Regions from separate parts of the Homo sapiens genome. Here region 1 is linked to region 2. Evidence: fine-mapped expression QTL. Tissue or cell type: whole blood. Region 2 holds a variant in brackets; the other region holds the start of a gene. All regions are shown on one strand. Distances are from middle to middle.

What was found.
Region 1: it holds the start of MSR1, and the variant in region 2 is fine-mapped to the expression of MSR1 in whole blood (INTERVAL, PIP above 0.99).

Annotation. Positions count from the first base shown.
Region 1 is chr8:16,187,554-16,197,674 of GRCh38, forward strand. It overlaps MSR1 (macrophage scavenger receptor 1), which reads right to left and starts at 5,098. Exons shown (of 10, transcript NM_138715.3): 1 at 5,045-5,098.
Region 2 is chr8:16,553,180-16,563,300 of GRCh38, forward strand. All of the region lies in intron 6 of LOC101929028 (a long non-coding RNA gene), which reads right to left. Among named protein-coding and RNA genes, the nearest start is that of MSR1, 370 kb to the left of the region's middle. The variant C/A (reference allele first, on the strand shown) is at 5,721.

The DNA of each region.
Region 1 (10,121 bases), 370 kb before region 2:
CCAAGCCAGATCCATGATGTGGACTTTTGATCTCTTTGGTTCAGGGATCAGAGAGTTCCTGAAGGTGCTCATTACATACATAATGCCGTATTTAAAATTACATAAATAAATGAAAGGCAAGATATTTTTCAAGATGACTGGATTTTATATCTTAGGTTATGCCTCAAGAAAACTTTGTGGTTCACTAAAGTAGGGATTTTAAAAATTCTTCTGTTACATATTGGAAAATAAAATATTTCTCTCTGCACTGCACGTAACTAGCAAACTGAAACAAAAAATATTACCCTCAGTGAACCCACTTTGCTTCAAAAGCATTTATTATTAAAATTACCAGATTATTTCAGCTGCTTACTCTGGTTATAATCATTGTAATTTTTTAGTAACGTGAACATACATACTTGCATGAGCCTTCATTAGCAGGCAGTGAACAACTCACACTGTTCAAGTGTGCCTTTTAATATCAGTTCCACAGTTAGGACAAAAAGTAGCTTCACATAAAGTTACTCTTCCTATTAAATGTCAGTGTGCTGATAAACGATTGTAAAATCCTTGGAGTTTGTGTAATCTATTAAAAGCACGTGCTCATGAGAAGTGAAACACGTTTCTGTAATATCAGCATTTTATCAAGTGGATGAAAAGTTTACAGGAAATTCATAATGAAAGAATTTCAAGGTTAATTTGTTGGGAACCATATACCTTACTTTTTTGTTTTTATTATAAAACATTTTAATAATATTATAGATATGTTAGGATGAAATTTCTGTCATCTCATCACCCTAATAAAGGAAAAAAACCCTTAATTTTTTAAATGAAACTCGAGTCTTTGGATGTATGTATACCTGTAACATAGTTCATATCATCATGCACGTATCATTTGGTATTACGCGTTTTCCTTAAAATCACCTCATTATTTTAATATTTCAAACGAATTTTTCAAACTTGAAATTTTTTTTATTATTCTTTAGGTTCTGGGATACACGTGCAGAACGTGCAGGTTTGCTACATTGGTATACATATGCCATGGTGGTTTGCTGCACCCATCAGCCCATCATCTAGGTTTTAAGTCCCACATGCATTAGGAGTTTGTCCTAATGCTATGCCTCCCCTTGCCTCCCACCTACTGACAGGCCCCGGTGTGTGATGCTCCCCTCCCTGTGTCCACGTGCTCTCACTGTTCAACTGTCACTTATGAGTGAGAACATGCAGTGTTTCTTTTTCTGTTCCTCTGTTAGTTTGCTGAGAATGATGGTTTCCAGCTTCATCCATGTCCCTGCAAAGGACATCAACTCATCTTTTTTATGGCTGCATAGTAGTCCATGGTGTATATATGCCACATTTTCTTTACCCAGTCTATCACTGAGGGACATTTGGGTTGGTTCCAAGTGTTTGCTACCTAATAATTCAACACACATACATATATATATATATATATATATATATATATAAAACAACATATATATATGTGTTGAATTATTATGTAGCAAAGACTTGCTTATATATATAAAACCTTATTTTACATATATTTCATATATACGCAAAACCTTATTTTACATATATTTCATATATACGCAAAACCTTATTTTACATATATTTCATATATACGTAAAACCTTATTTTACATATATTTCATATATACGTAAAACCTTATTTTATATATATTTCATATATGTAAAATCTTATTTTATATATATTTAGATATAATCTTATTTTATTTATATTTCAAATATATAAAATCTTATTTACATTTCATATATATATAAAATCTTATTTACATTTCATATATATATAAAATCTTATTTTATATATTTTTATATATATTTTATATATATAAAATCTTATTTTATATATATTTTATATATATTTTATATATATAAAATCATATTTTATATATATAAAATCTTATTTTATATATATTTTATATATTTTATATATAAAATCTTATTTTATATATATTTTTATATATAAAAAATCATATTTTATATATATTTTATATATTTTATATATATGAAATCTTATTTTATATATATTTTATATATATTTTATATATATATAAAATCTTATTTTATATATATTTTATATATATATAAAATCTTATTTTATATATATTTTATATATATATAAAATCTTATTTTATATATATTTTATATATATATAAAATCTTATTTTATATATATTTTATATATATATAAAATCTTATTTTATATATATTTTATATATATATAAAATCTTATTTATACAGCCATTTTTCTAAATAAAAAATACAGCCATTTTTCTAAAATATAATTTTTTCTTTTAAACTTTTTTTCCTTTTCCCAGGGGGCAATGCTTCACTGATATAAATAATGATGTTATAAATATTTCCTTTTTTTTTTTTTTTTTGAGATTGAGTCTTGCTTTGTCACCCAGGCTGGAGTGTAATGGTGTGATCTCAGCTGACTGAAACCTCTGCCTCCTGGGTTCACGTGATTCTCCTGCCTCAGCTTCCCGAGTAGCGGGATTATAGGCGTTTGCCACCATGCCCAGCTCATTTTTGTATTTTTCACCGCGTTCATCCAGCTGGTCTCAAACTCCTGACCTCAGGTGATCCACCCTCCTTGGCCTCCCAAAGTGCTGGGATTACAGATGTGAGCCACTGCCCCGGCCATTATTTTCATAATTTAGCTTTCTTCTTTTAAAATGTTTCTTTAGGATAATTCATCATATGTGAAACTAAAAAGTGAAAGGAAAACTATTTTGAACTTCTTGGGCTCTACTGTCTTAGTGATCTTTAAAAAGATAACATAAATTTATAAATATTCCAGACTTATATGTGAATATGGCAGTTTCAAGCAAAATTCACTACCATTGAATAATAAAGCTTATTTTAGAATCATTTAGATTTTGATAAGAGTTAAATAATACCTAAAAGTGGTTTTCATTTTTATTTTTTATTATTAATGTAAGAGAGAGATTTCACTGTAATTGTCTGTCATACATTGTTCTTCTTGGGTTATTATCTATTCATATTCACTGCTTATACATCCCCACAGGTTTCTTTTACCTAAGCATGTGAATCAGCTCTTTATGTTTAATACATATTTACCATCTGTCTTTTCATACTTGACATGCATTCGTTTTCCTAAGATTTTTCCCTATTTAGTTTTTTTATCATATTCTTTCTTTTTTCTTTCTTTCTTTTTGTTTTTGAGATGGAGTTTCGCTCTTGTTGCCCAGGCTGGAGTGCAATGGCGTGATCTTGGCTCACCACAACCTCCGCCTCCTGGGTTCATGTGATTCTCCTGCCTCAGACTCCGGAGTAACTGGGATTACAAGCATGCACCACCACGCCCGGCTAATTTTGTATTTTCAGTAGAGACAGGGTTTCTCCATGTTGGTCAGGCTGGTCTTGAACTCCCGACCTCAGGTAATCCACCTGCCTTGGCCTCCCAAAGTGCTGGGATTACAGGCGTGAGCCACCGTGCCCGGCCCATCATATTCTTAAGGCCAACTTTATCTTCAACATTTGGAATAAATAATAAGCTTGTGATCCTCCTTATTATATAAAATAATAACTTTGATTTTTGTAACAGCAGTTGAATGTGTATATAAAATGAAAATTAAATTAAGATTATTTGTGAAACTAACAGCTTTATGCTTAAGGAACCCGTCTGTAAGACAGATTTTAGTAAGAAATGGAAATATTTATATTGTGCCTGATGTCACTGATATTCATCCTTGGTAGCAAAGAAGAAAGAGCATCAACTTTTGAATCTGAAATCTAGATTTGAGTATTGACTGTGACATCATTTAGCTGTGTGATCTTAGGCAAATATTTTAACTTATTTGAATTGAACTTTCTTTAGATATGTAAAATATGATCACAATATAAATTTAAAGAATTATTGCGAGAATTAAAAATAATTTTTGTAAATTGCCTGGTACACAGAAAACCATCAATATATGAATCCCTGTTATTTTAAAATATCACTTTTTTTTTAAATATGAGCTTTTCTTATTTTGTTCTCACGGAATCTTCATGAGGTACAAGTAGTATTTTCTCCATTTTACAGGTTAGGGAACTGAAATGTGTAAGTAACTAGTCAAGTTACTCAACTAGGGAGCAGGGGAGCTGGAATTTGAACACAGGCAGTCTACTCCCAGAAGATTAGCTCTTACCCACTGCATAAAACGGCTAATCACTGCATAAAACATCTGTAATCTCAGTTCTATGGTTTTTCTATAAGTATTTTTACCTGGTCAGTGCAAATGCCAACCTCCCATTATATGCTGTGTGAATCTTACTTAGTCTTCAAGATTAATCAGATTTCTAGCATCTCCATGAAGATTTATTTTTGATAGACTTTTTTCACATAGAAGTAATTTTGGCCTCGCCTATATTTTCATAGTAATTATCTATAGCATTTTCATACTACTTAAGGTGCTAGTAATTATCTATAGTACTTTCATACTACTTAAGGTGCTCAAATTACATTATGCCTATTTGGGGATATGTTTTAAATCATAAGATTCCGGAGCACAAAAAGAACTATATCTTATTTTTTGTATCCTTTCCCCACATCTAGTTCAATGAAGTGCATATAGTAGATACCCAGCCAATATTTGCTATATAATCAAGGGAAGATAATAAAAGGCATTAGATTAAAGCCAAAAATGTTCCATGAAAAGTTATGAAAGGAGAATAGGTGAAATATGTCAAATTATACTTTGAATAAAACCAGTATTTTAAACAAAATATGCTTAATTATATGAAAAAACCCCATTGCTGGTTCAAACTACAAAGCATTTAGTGTATTTCATATGTACTTGTGAACATATATGTTTTTCACTCATGGAAAATTTAGCAGAAATCCCTATTTTTTGATTATCGAAAAAAACCAAACCAAATTATTGCTGATACAATAAAGCATTCATCTCATCATACACACACAGACACACAAATATATATCACACACATGCATGCACACACACACACAGAGTACACACATAACAATCAATAGAAACAATTCTGGAAAAAACATTAAAATAAGCCTTTTTTTTTCTTTACCTTTCGTCCTAAAGAAAGCAGCACTGATTTATCCACTTCTCTCTCTTTACAATTGAAACCTAAAATCTTTATCTCATAGTATTTCAGCATCTGGTACATGAAGAAAGGAAATGACACATTCCTGCGTTGAAAATCTTTCTTAATGTGTTTCAATAGCACTCTCATCAATGCACAGGTTTGCAAAATCTAAATTTGTCAGATAACTCACTCTTCACCCCATTTAGGCCGCTTTAAAAAAAAAAGAGAAGTGAAAAGGAAAAGAAACAAGGGTTGTTGAAACAAGCACATAATTTACAGCAGATTGAGCTTTCCTTTTTTTTTGGAGATGGAGTCTCGCTGTCTCACCAGGGTGGAGTGCAGTGGTGTGATCTCCGCTCACTGCAACCTCTGCCTCCCAGGTTCTACAGGCGTGTGCCATCACACCCGGCTAATTTTTTGTATTTTAGTAGAGACAGGGTTTCGCCATGTTGGTCAGGATGGTCTTGATCCCCTGACCTCATGGTCCGCTCGCCTTGGCCTCCCAAAGTGCTGGGATTACAGGCGCGAGCCACCGTGCCCAGCCTGATCTTTCCTTTTTTATAAGTAATCTATGCCTTCTAAAACATACATTAATTCTCATGATCTCCTCTTTCACGTTACTATAATGTTGAGTAAAGACTCCATGTTTGGCTAGGTGTGGTGGCTCATGCCTGTAATCCCAGCACTTTGGGTGGCCGAGGTGGCTGGATCACTTGAGGTCAGGAGCTCTAGAACAGCCTGGCCAACATGGTGAAACTAGTCTCTACTAAAAATACAAAAATTGGCCAGGCATGCGCCTGTAATCCCAGCTACTCGGGAGGCTGAGGCTGAAGAATTGCTTGAACCCAGGAGGCGGAGGTTGCAGTGAGCAGAGATCGCACCACTGCACTCCAGCCTGGGCAACAGAGTGAGACTCCACCTCAAAAAAAAAAAAAAAAAAAAAGACTCCATGTTTAGAGATTCGAGTTTTTTTCTTAGATCCTTTTTCCTGTACCTTTATCCCTAGCCTCAAACACAAAACACGTGAAGAAAGAATATGATGCCTTAGTAAGAACAAGTAATAACCTAAAAGCACTCACTCCTGTTCTCTCTATAATGATAATAGCATTAATTTTTAGAGCACCAGACAAGTTGTTTATTTCCAGTAGTATAGTAGAGGGAAGGAATCTCAGGCATGGATCAGATGAAAGGGATGTTCTTTCCCTTCTGCCATCCATCAGGGTTTTATACAATTCAACTCCGTTATTTACTCACATTCAAGAAGTTCAAGTATGACTCACATGAAAACGTTCAACATTACATTAATGAGCTAAGTTTTACAACTGATATTTCTGGGAGAAGGTGTTTAGCTTATATTCCGTAGTCACTCTTTTGTGCCCAAACAGGAGAAATCATGCTTCCTACCAAAAGATGCCCCAAATTGCTGTGCCCATGGGCACCATCCTTCAGAAGACAATACGTCTGCAAGAAAGTATGCGGGAACAGCGCACGGTCTTTGAGAGATGCAAAGTAACAGTATTATTCAGTTATTCTTAAGGTAACCACTAAAAGGCTAATAGTAGTAGTAGGACAGGCATCAAAGTAAGCTGCATAATTTCTAACCAGGCAGCTTGAAGACTAGAAGTACGATCACAATTTGATCCAGCCTGGACCAGCATAAATGCTATTGGCTATTCCTCATCAAATTCTTACTGACACAGAACTGGAGACTACAAAACTCACACTCTTTCCTTTACAATTATTTGTACATGCTTCTTATTTTAAAATATAGTCCTTTTAGGTTTTTTTGTACAAAATCTGAAGTTTAAAATTTAGATATCCCTGACAATGCTACGTGATTAGAAAAGTCAGACTCTGGGAATAACAAGACACCAATCTCCCAAAATTCTATCCTAATGAGGTTTCTTTCTGTCAGTGTGCTTTATTTTCAGTATGTCTCTGTAATACTGTTTGGTGTATATCCACAGTGCTGACCACTTCCCTATGTGATGATTTCCACACTCTTCAGCCAATCTAATTTTTCATTAAAAAACTTCCCTTTTTATATGTCTAAATAGGTACTATATAATTTTATATAGTTTTATATATAATAATTATAGATTATGTAACATAATATTATCTATTAGGTCTTACTATATGTAAAAACACCTTTAGCAGGGAACCATGTTAAAAATGTTCAGTTCAAGCCAATGATTAATTGAGAACAGAGGTAATATGTAAAGGGTTGGGATTTTGCATTCATTCCTTCATTTGACTTCACAGCAACTTTGTCATATCACTTCCCTAATTGAGAAATTAATGTTTAGAGATGGTAAGTAAATTTCTCGAGATCAGAGTTATGAGTCATCAGAGCTGGTATTTAAACCCAGTCTGATTACAAAATTTGGCAAAATATAGTTTTTTCTTAAGCTGAAGTAGGTATATGTATTATTAGGGGACTATAATATCTCCATCAAAAACAGTATACAGAAAACAAGCCACAAATATGGGCAAATTCCAGATCATGTGGATAGTTACTTTGTTCATAGTTATTGTGATGGATCCCAATTACTTTATTTTTGTTGCTTATGGATATATGTGTCTAGAATGAGGTCCATGTAAGATTATGCCCAGTGACCAAACAGAGATTCATAATCAAATAGGCAAATGGCTTGAGAGAATTGATTCAAATGTCCTAGGACTCACTGTGGTACAGGTATACTGAACTCAAAAGAAGAGTTAACATTTTACACTCATTAAGAGGTATTTTTGTATGTCTAAAGTTACAGCAGGTTGTTAGTCATAATATATAGTTAATACATTATGACTTATTTATTGTATGATATATATATGATAAAGTTTCGAGATAAAATTTTTCATGTTCTTAATTCAAAGCAATAAGTAAATAGTGATATAAATACAGATTTTAATAATGCTGCAACGGACACATATTGCTGTGGGATTATAAAGCATTTACAGAATTATCAAAACATTCTTTAATAAAATTGACATTGAAAAATTGCATATTGGCAGAGCTTTTTCTTTGATAATCATAAGCAGAAAACTGTGAAGGTACCAGTAACATTTTATATAGCCTTATTAAACAGAACTTTCCTATATGAGAATTATTGAAGTCAAATACAGAAACAGACCAAGGACAGTATCAGAATTGAATAGTATCTTCCTTCTATTAAACCTATAATAATATTTTGGCTTGCCCACACAATCTTAAATTGGTGGTGTTAGTTAAAATTTTAATTTTTTTGCGAGATTTTAAAATTTAATTAACATATGCATTATATTTCAAAAACTTGGTTAAGAACTGTAGGCTTACAGTGTTTAGGTCTAAATTCGTGTTTCTCTATTTTAACATAAAATTATAATAAAATAATATATCAACACTTAATAAGGTATAGAGATCAATATATTTATTTTCTTTTGAGAAACACTGCACTATGCCATACTGTCTATTTTTAAAAGAAAGTTCATGGAAGACTTCTAGTTGCAGCTTCAACATCTAAAGAGCTTGGAAGTCATCACTCATATCTCGACACCACGAAAAAAGCTGGAGAAACTAAAAATCAATGACGTCTTGGACCCATCAGAGAACTGAGGTCTCAAGGAAACTACCAGCCTGAAACCGGGAGAGAGAGGAGATTACAGAGCATCACAGCAGACACCAGATCACCTGCAGCTGATGCCAGTGGAACCACAAACTGGCAGGAACACCTAAGCAGGAATTTGGCAAGAGGCTGAGTATGGACCAGTGTGAGCACTGGAGCCTCCTGGGGGCTGCAGTCTTCAAGGCGCCCCCTAAACACTTACAGGCTTTACTTCCAGGAATACAACTTGGTTCTCACAGTATATACCAAAAAATATCACCTGATGTCCCTGGCAGAGAGAAGGGAAATCTAATGATTTTAAAATATACGTAGAGCATTTCCTGTAACAAAGGCTTACTCCCCAGTGAAAAGAGTTTATCAGAGCGTTATCTTAGCTAGGCAGCTGAAGGGTAACTATTCAATGCTCGCTCCCTCTAGTCTTCCAGCTGCAGTTCAACTTGGCAGAGAAAAAGGAAAAAAAAAAAAAAGTTTAGAAACGCTCATGAAGGTCACAGGTCACAGTCCGGGGACAAGGGCCCACTAAAAGACTGAGATTTAATCAGAAGACTATAGAACACCTCACCCCGCCCCCACATCTCACCCCTCCGTCAACAGAGCTCCCGTATGATAACAGTGGATGACAGGTGAAAGAGATGCAAGGTTTTTTTTGAAAGGGAAGTTTGTAGGGGAACCTAAATACAGTAGAGGCAACAAAGAGACACTACAGGTAATTTTAGCTTCTGACAGCTGTATCTACAGGAAATGTTAGACGTAACCCAGCTCCTAGCTAGATTAATATACAACCTCACACTAAAAGGCAAGTAAGCATACCTAAGACCCTAAAAGTCACACTGTCCTTAGACAGTTAGGGAAGTAGAATGGATAACATATGCCCAAAATACGAATGACTAATTTCCTTGCAAGATCAGCTGTCTCCTGCAAGCAACATTTGACAATTCACCCTTTCCTCGTGATGATGTCTTAACTAAGAAGATACAAAAATGCAAGGAAATGAAAGTGAATATGAGATCACTTTTATGTGCTATTTTAAAAACATAAATGCACATTGCACTGTGTTTAGGGAACTATGGCTTCAGAATTGTAGGAAAGACCCATGTAGTTTAAATGAGTTTCAAACTTGTAAAAGTGTCAATTAATTTAAGCCAGAGCAAAATGCATTAAGCAAATTCTTAACCAGAAGTCTGTGAAATCATGATGGAATGTCAGCCTAGGGGCCCAAATGAGAGAAAAGAATTTATGCTATAGCCAAAAGGATTGTTGCAAGGTGGATACCATTGACTTTATAGCAATTTCATATGCCCGATTGCCTTTTATTCTCATAGCAAACCCTCTTTATTTTGCAATGAGAAAACTTAAAGACTCTTGAATAAATTATCTAGGGCCACCTGGCTAGTGAGAGAGCATGAACTAGAATGTATGTTCTGTGATGTTCTAAGCCACATGGCTCACGTCGCCTT
Region 2 (10,121 bases):
TTTACCTTGAGTAAAACGTATGCCAATGTAAGACACTCAGCACAGAATTAACATGAACTTCAGTTATGAAAATCATTCCTGCTTTTGTGTTGAGAATAGGCTACAGGATAACAAGACAGAAATAGCACAGTAATCCAAGCAGGAGATAAAAGTTGTTCAGATCTGTACGACAGAAGTGGAAGTGATGAGAAGTGGTCACATTCTGGAAGGTCACCAGATTTCCCAGCATATTGTAATGGGTGTGAGAAAAAGATAGCAATCAAGGATAATTCCAATGTTTTGGGAACATTAGACTTGCTATGAACTGAGATACAGAAGGCTAAAATTGGAATGGGCTCTGAGAGAAAGAAAAAAGGAAAAAACAGTCATTAAGACTAAAAAGGTGTTGACACGGATGTGTTTAAAAGGGAACACTTCCACACTGCTGGTGGGAATGTAAACTAGGACAGTTACTATGGAAAACAGGGCAGAAATTCCTTAAAGAACTAAAAGTAGAAATACCGTTTGATCCAGCAATCCCACCACTGGTTATCCACCCAGAGGAAAGTAAGTCATTATACGAAAAAGATAATTGCAAACACAAGTTTAGAGCAGCACAACTTGAAATTGCAAAAATATGGAACCAGCCCAAATGTCCATCAATCAACAAGTGGATAAAGAAACTATGGTGTATATATAATACTACTCAGCCATAAAAACGAATGAATTAATAGCATTTGCAGCAACCTGGATGGAATTGGAGACCACTATTCTAAGTGAAGTAACACAGGAATGGAAAACCAAACATCGTATGTTCTTACTCATAAGTGGAAGCTAAGTTATGAGGATACAAAGGCATAAGAATGATACAATGTACTTTGGGGATTTAGGGGGAAGTGTGGGAAGGGAGTGAGGGATAAAAGGCTATAAATTGGGTTCAGTGGATACTGCTCAGGTGAGGGTTGCACCAAAATCTCACAAATCACCCCTAAAGAACATACTCACGCAACCATATACCACTTGTTATTCAAAAACCTATGGAAATAAAAAACTTAAAAATTAAAATTAAAAAGGTGTGCTACAGAGAAGGAGGAAAACCAAATGAGTGTTGTATCCAGGGAGGCAAACGATGAAAGAGTATTAGGGAGTAGAGAATAAATAACTCCACCAAATCCTTCTGACAAATAAGAGGAAAACTGGGAATGGCATTGGACTTAACAATATGAAGGTTACTTTTGTCAATGCTAAGAGGATTTTTGATGGAGCGATGGGTGCAAAAGCCAAAATGGAGTGCATTAAAACCGACTTTCCCCTAGTGTTCTATTATTGGAATGCTAAGGATGTGGGAGTTATTCATATCCTACTGCTCAAGATCATCGCTGAGGTCTGGGAAGGGGAGGGGAGTGGAGGGGAGGGAAGGAGAGGAGAGTGGAGGGGAGGGGAGGGGAGGGGAGGGGAGAGGAGAGGAGAGGAGAGGGGAGGGGAGGGGAGACGACAGGAGAGGAGAAGAGAGGAGAGGGGAGGGGAGGGGAGACGAGAGGAGAGGATAGGAGGGGAGGGGAGGGGAGACGAGAGGAGAGGAGAAGAGAGGAGAGGGGAGGGGAGGGGAGACGAGAGGAGAGGAGAGGAGAGGAGGGGAGGGGAGGGGAGGGGAGGGGAGAGGAGAGGAGAGGAGAGGAGAGGAGAGGAGAGGAGAGGAGCTATATTTGACAAATTACCTAACTACACCCTAAGCAAATGTTTTGAATCCTTGAAGGCAGAGATGTTCATTGGCATTTTTTCCTTTGTAACTATACAATAATGCTTGGAAGAGAGTAGGTGCTCCGTAAATAAGTATAGCCTTTGAAGATATCCCATAATTCCTATTTTATAAAAATATATGCCGTAGAAATAGTCACAGAAATGTTTATAGTTGTACGTTGAATTCTCAGTGTTTTACAATTTTAGTATTTTGGCAACAAGGCCAGCCACAAATTATATCAAGATCATTTAATTGGTGTCATATCATCTTAAATAAGAGCACAAAACATAGAGAAATTATTTTCTAATCAGTTGTAACTTGGTAAACTATCTCGAAATTATTATTCAGAAAGATGAGAAAAAGACCAGGAAACCCAAGGAAACACAAGTGAGAATACGTAGAGACTAACGGGAAAGAATAAACATGTAAAAGATGAAAAAAATGAACTAAAGGATGGAAAACAAATGAGTTATTTAGAAGAAAGTTATGGCAAAATCAGAATAACTGAAGCCGTGAATAAATTTAAGACAAGTAGAGTGACAGCAGGAATACTTCCAATATATCTAATAATCAGGAACACATTGAAAATGAAGGAACAGTTGCCTTGGACAAAAAAAAAAAAAAAAAAAAAGCTTACCTTTGAAGATTTGGCCATCTTAGAATCATATGTCTGGATTACTGAAGTGGAGGAACTAGCATGCTAGAAGTATACTTCAGGATAATTCATATCCCCTTATATTTAGTCATGATATATACTTGAATCTGAACCTGAGTATAAGATTTTTTTAAACAACTTAAGACTAAAATAATAAAGTAATGCTGTTATGCATATAAAAAATGAAATGTTATAGCAATTGCATTTAGTTTGTTGGTTTCTCAGGGAACTATAGACAAGTACAGAAAAACGCTTTGATTCTTAATTTGTAATATGTGCTGATTATTATTTTATTCAATTTTACTAATATGCTGTAATTAAACCAACAGCAAACCTAAGTATACTATTTATGATTCCACCTTTTTGGAAGAGGGCTTAGTCGTGTGGACTTAGGATAAGTCATGGCAAAGAAATGGAATTGTGCCACACAGTTGTATCATCAAATGCAATTTTCAAAGTACACAGTAAATCACATACCTGAATTTTGTTCTCAAATACTGGGCAGAACAGCACTATCAAACACAAGAGTCACAGAAACAACTCCACACAGTCCACAGATGTAAATAGGAATAAGAGTCATATTAAAATCTCATGCCCTATTCAGGCCTTTGGCTATGAAGTTAACCCCCAAATCACCTACTATTTGTATCTCAGTATGGCCATACTATTCTTACTTTCTATTCTATATGCACTAACACTTATAAAAATAATTTTTAATTAAAAATAGCTGTCCTTGTGAAAGGCATCTATTTCTGTTTTAAAAAATCAACTCCTAGTGCTGATGACTGAAGTAAGAAAATAGTTAAATCTGAGAAAGTGATGATGTTTAGGTGGAAAACATCCTAGGGTTAAAACAATACAATGAAATATTATATTCTACAGTGGTTTCAATTAATAATCTAAATGAACTCATTTTTTCTGACCTATACAGAGACAAACAAGAAAGTTTATAAAACATCAGTACTTTTGGGGAAAACTTTATGCTACATGAATTCTTGTTTGTTTGTTTGTTTTGAGATGGAGTCTCGCTCTGTTGCCCAAGCTGGAGTCCAGTAGCGTGATCTCAGCTCACTGCAACCTCTACCTCCCAGGTTCCAGCAGTTCTCCTGCCTCAGCCTCCTGAGTAGCTGGGATTACAGGTGCACACCACCACCCCCAGCTGATTATTATTTTTTTTTTTTTTTTTTTTTTTTTTGTATTTTTAGTAGAGACAGGATTTCACCATGTTGGCCAGACTGGTCTCAAACTTCTAACCTCAAGTGATCTGCCCACCACATGAATTCTTAAAGGTGTGTCTTAAGAAACTGTCAGAGTTCTACTGTACCAACAATTTCCAAGGAGTATTAATCATTGAGGTTAAAGAATGTGCCTACATATTCAATTGAGCTTATTTAGAAACGCCTGTTTTCAGAACAATGATCTCCACATGCTATAAGGACTGTGTGGAATTGTTTCTGAGAATCCCGTGTTTGATTAGTGCTCTTCTGCCCAATATGTGAGAACACAATTCAGGTATGTGATTTGCTGACTACTTGGAAAATTACATTTTGATAGTGCAACTCTGCAGGCAATCCCATTTCTTTTCTAGAGTGCTTCCATAATAAATATGTTCTGGTGTTTCACTAACTCTCATAGGTGTCATTTCTATCACTACATTTGTGTTTCTAAGATTGAGCTATTGAAGTAGTGTTTACACTACTTCTTCCACATGGTTTCCTATCTAATATGAATGATAACTGAAGTAGCTATGTCTACAATAGATCATTGACATTTTTTCTCCCAAAGGATTATCTGTTTGAGTTTTTCAAAATGATGTTTTCTGAATCCACACCTGATACTGCCTGGGTAACAACTTAATTCACAGTACACCAAGAGAATGTCTCCCTTTTTGTATCTCCAACTGTATTTGCTTCACTTTAAAGTAGTATCGTGTTTTGTATTATTATTATTTTAATTTAATGAAAGAATAAGAAATCATTAAAGTTTGAATAAATTAAAATATTCAGGTGCCATACACTTATATTGCTCCTGGATAAGAAAAATAATGTTTAAAGTTTTTTATGCCAATGCAAAGAAGGAGAAGGAAAGTTACATGTTAGGAGAATCTGTTCTGTCTGTGGTTGTTAACCCTCTCAATAAAGCTACAAGGTAGCATTAGTTTCTTCATTTCACCAAAAGTCACAAGGCTAAGTACCTAGTATATGGAAAATTTCAAACTCAAAGTGGAATTTGAAATAATGTTCCTATGGTTCCAAAGGCTGTCACTTTTTTAGTATGCTGTATTCTTTTCTATACAACTATTTCACTTTCATTATAAGAAAATTCAGCCTGAAGTACATACGTTAACTTATCCATTTAAACACATTATCACATAATTTTTTGTATCTGAAAAAAAAATGTAGCCCATATAATACTGAGAATGAAGATTTAAAGAATGCCTTTCTGAATCCAATAACCAGAATATTGAATATTCACTAAAAATCCCAGTAAGCCTGTTTTATAGGTGAAAACTCTTGTAGCATGTTGGCATGGTTTACTTTCAGAACTATTCTTCACAAGGAATGCTTGAATGACACAAATAATACTAATATTAGTACACAGGTATTAATACTATTAATAATGTTAATATATCATTTTATATAAGCTTTACATTAATAATATTAGTACTGATGCACTAATGTTAATAATATAACAAGTAGTTAAGTACAAACAATCTCAAATGATCTTGAACTCTTGCTACAGAGGTAATATGATAAATTCTGGCCTTTACCGTGTTGTCATGGGGAACTTACTGGCTTTCAATATGAAGCAACTCTGAGTTTTTAATTATCTCATTTACAAAGGAAGATTTACAATGAAGTTATGATCATATATTTGTGGACACTTTCTAAAACTAAGAAATATTAAATTCAATGAAGATTACTGTCACTTTCTATGCCAATCTCTATCTCTACCACCACCCTACAAAAATACATATAATTATACTATAATATTGAGGCTACAGGCATGTTTGATAATTGGGTTAAGGTACAACTGTATTGGTGATATATTTTGTTTGGTTGAGTGAATCAGGCTAGGGGCAGAATATAGGTTTCTGATACATAGGACAAACATCTTTTTTCTATTCTATCTCACTTTTCAAACATGTTTGGTAAATTTTATCAAAATTATACTGGTAGGTCAAGTAGGAAATAGCAGTCAGACAATATATACTTATCTTTTTAAATAGTTTCCCCATGTTAGAGCTTCCCATTCTCTATATTTTATGGAAAGTTTTTGTTATTCCCAACGGTGATGAGGTGAGCAGTGTTTGTATTTTGAAATATGAGGTTAGACTAGGCAAAA[C/A]GATTAGGTCAGTGGTAGTTTTACTGAAGGCAGAAAAAAATCTAAAAAATTATAAATATGTATTCAGCTGAGACCTCATCAGAATGATATATTGTTAGTTGTAAAGATATGATACTTTATAAAAAAGACATTGATCATCTTGTGAAACAAATGAACTTAAATTGCCATCTAGTTTATTGCTGGAGAGATAATTTCTTTGACATTAGTTTAACTTTCATGCTCCATTTATACTTATAAAAGCTTTTAAGAGACCAAAACAGATTCTCATTGTCTACCTAAACGCAGTGATATTGGCAACAATTATGCTCTTCTAAAATGAACAGTCAAAAAGATATGCAATTAATATGGATTTTAACAAAGATATTGGCAAATGTATTTTTTAAAAACAAAAATCTCATTACCTTAACGATTGTATTGAGCAATTCACTTTCCAAGATGTCATATATTTGAGATTACCTATTCTTAGCACAGTTCTTCCAGTCTACCTCAGAAATAAAATAAAAACTTTTTATCTTATTTTCTAAAATCTGTATTATTCTTGTGACTGTTATCTGCTCAAGATTACATCATTTTTTCTGCATAAAAGCCAGTTTCCAGTAAGTATACGGAACTTAGTATTAAAGCTAGTCATTTCACATTACATTTGAATTATGCTTAATTTCTAAAGTATTTCAACATATTATCTCTCTTGATATTATAAATATATCAAGGGTTAGCTCAGATTGTTATCACTCTACAATGGCAGAATCACGACTCCAAGTTTTTATTGTCTGGTCATGTTTACTATTTTCACAATTGCAAATAATGCCTCAAATACTAGTAGATTTGCACATACATTACAGAAACAACTATGATAAAGACTGGGACGAATTGGAATAATTCTAATGCTGTAAGTTTTAAATAATAAAATTTGTTATTTTATTATAAAAACAAAGGAGTCTTTCTTACATATAGAGTATTGTTATGAACACAGACTGATACACAATTAAAATATGCAATTTTATAACTAAATAGGTACATCATCAAGGCAACTATAGTGTTCCCTTTGAGTGAAGAGAAAAAGAAGGAAAAACGCATTTAAAACATTGCCTGTAGGTGTCTTTGTTACTTAAAAGTTTCAAGAGCCTTCCTAATAGCATGCTTCCAAGATACTCAAAGAATTTCTTAATTAAAATTGTATTGATGTATTCTATCTGCAGAGATAATTAAATACAACACTAGTTTTCTCTTGCAAAAACACATTTGTCTTGCCAAGAAAGTAATTGAGAAATAGAGTCGAGTGACTCAACCTTGATACGGAAACTTTTGCCAGAAAAGTTTCTTCTGTTAAGAAAAGTCTGAGGATTAGCCACTGCTATATAGTTTGATCTAATTTCTTTTTGTCTTAATTGAATGTGAAAAATAATGGCATAATAAAACAAATGCATATTTCTCCCCATTAGTTCACGACATACAAAAGAAGTTAAGCCAAGTCAGATTTTGAAGTCAACTGAGAGCCGATGCCTTATTCACCGGTAGCATTCATCTGTTTCATCATGATGCTCTCTTTCTCTGTTTTTCTGTTTCATCATGATGCTCTCTTTCTCTGTTTTGAACAGTCACTGAACTATTAAGTTGGACTTTTTCATTTTAAAATACAAGTTACTCTCTCATGCCTGCATCCCAATGATAATTATTGCTCTGAAGGAGCAGTTCCAATTAAAAGATGTGCTGTTCATTCATTATCGCTGAGTTACTGTGATAACATCCCAGTTACTGGAGCTTACAGTTGCAAGGTTACAATAGAAAACAGTGGAAAGGAAATTCTAGGGAACCCATCAGCCCAGATTTACGCAAAAAATGTATTTATTGCTACGCAATATATAATATCCTTTAAATCCTTAAACCCAAACAAAGATTTAGAAAAAAAATATGATTTTGTTAGAGAGCACAGCACATTGACTCAAATTTTCAAAAGCCTTACTATCTCAGCACCAAATAACTTCAGATGAAGTTAAAGAAGGCTATCTAAGAGCAAATATGATCCAAAGGCTTCATTCTGATGCCTTAGTGAGAAAAAAAGCAGGAACTCAACCTCTACCCAGGCCCTAAGCACTTCAGAATACTGACAGTGGTTGAGGTATTTGAGGATAGAGGTCCAAGAAAGAACCATCCAGTCGTGAGGAAGATGACCTCCATCCAGTAAGTGAGCAAATTCCCACCTCCAAGAGTTTACAGGTTCAGCATTTGTGACATGTCCCAGTGGAAACGTGAAAAATATAAAGTTGTGAAACATTCTTACAGTGCAGTGACTTTCAGAATGACAATTAGGACCTCAAAAATCTGCTTATCTGTAATGCAATGATAGAGCACTTGCAAAAACTGTCTAAATTACCTTTTTTTGAAATTCCAGAAGTTAACCCAAAACTTCCATCACTCTGCAGGGAATTTCTTCAAGGAAAATAGCTGAACCTCAGTAAAAAACAGAAAGGCTTGTACCATTTTATTTTATTTATTTATTTATTTATTTATTTATTTTTATTTTATTTTATTTTTTTTTTTCTGAGAAGAGTTTCACTCTTGCTGCCCAGGCTGGAGTGCAATGGCACAATCTCCGGTTCACTGCAACCTCTGCCTCCTGGGTTCAAACAATTCTCCTGCCTCAGCCTCCCTAGCAGCTAGGATTACAGGCATGTGCCACCACACCCAGCTAATTGTGTATTTTTGGTAGAGACGGGGTTTCTCCATGTTGGTCAGGGTGGTCTCAAACTCCCAACCTCAGGTGATCTGCCCGCTTCGGTCTCCCAAAGTGCTGGGATTACAGGCATGAGCCACCGCCCTCCGCTGGCTTGTACCATTTTAACCTGCCCTATTCTCATCTCATTTTTGTCGGTTCCACAATAACCTTGAACACCAGCAGCTTCACAGCCATGGTAGTGAAACCAAGCAGCCCAGTAGCTACTAGAAACAGTTAACTGGATTTGGATCTCCTCACAATGCTTGTCCCCACATATATAATCTGTCTGGCAGCTCCTTGGGAAATCTCCATTAGCAAGGCTTTTCTTTATTTCACCTCATCCAGTGTTCAACAGGAAAAGTCTTGTCTCCAGAACATTTGTTGAAACTAATTGCCTAACATGGCAACTGCCTGAGGCCAAGATAACAATTGAGGCAAACAAGAGGTTGGGCAAAAAGGAAGATGAGAATGAGATGTTCCTAGTGGGCTTGGAAAAGCTTCAATGTATTACTGGGGATCTAGAAGGCCCCATGCATGTGCAAAGCTGTGCATGTGCCCAGGAAAACCTAGAAAGGTCCTAATCTCTAAGCAGAAAGTAAAGGCTGAGGCACAGCTTTAAACTGCTTGAATGCTAAAGGCATGCCCTAATACATACAGAGCTCCTCTGCAAAGGGTAGGATACGTTGTTTGAAGAAAAAATCAATTTAAGAAAATCTCTGTCCTATCATTAGCTGACCAGTAAACTAACCAAGCCATGACTTCAGTGCTGTTCATGACAGAAAATAGAGACTTTGCAGAATTCATACAGCAAAGCTGCTACACGAAGAGGATCAAAAATATCAGATGACAAAAACAACATCCCTGGGGAAGGTAGAGAATCTGATTTCCACAATTATTATATTATAGAATGTCCAGTTTTCAACAAGGTTATAAGACACAAAGGGAAAAAATGTAGTCAGTAAAAACTGTCGCTAAGGAAGCCTAGATATTGTATTTACTAAACAAACACTTTAAGTCAGTTATTGTAAATATGTTGAAAGAACTAAAAGAATCCTTGTCTAAATAACTAAAGGAAAGTATGAATTGTGTCTTAGCGAATAGAGAATATCATTAAAGACACAGAAATTATATTTTAAAAATAGCTACACAGAAATTCTGGAGTTGAAAATTAAAATAACTAAAATGAAAAATTCATTGGAAGGAGTCACATCATATTTGCATTGGCAAAAGAAATGATTTGTGAAGTTAAAGGTAGTTCATTGAAATTGCCCAGTCTGAAGAAGAGAAAGAGAAAAGAACGAAGGAAAATGAACACAATTTCAGAGATCTGTGAGATAACACCAGGTATATCAACATATGCATAACAGGAGCCCCAGAAAAGAAGGGAAAGAGAAAGAGGCAGAAGTAATATTTTAAGAAATACTGACTGAAAACTTCCCAAATTTGATTAAAATGCTTGTAAGTTAAAATGATAATTGCAAGTATTCACTTCATTGATATTTGTCCTACTGCATTTCTAAAATCTTCTAAAACACAAAGTAGACATTCCTCAGCTTTAGTATGCCTACCTGCCATTTTTAGTGCAATGGAAAAAAAAAAAGAATATACAGCAGTAAAACATTTTCGTTCACTGTTAAATCAATCCTATTTAATCTTAATTCATTTTTTTCAATTGAATATATCTT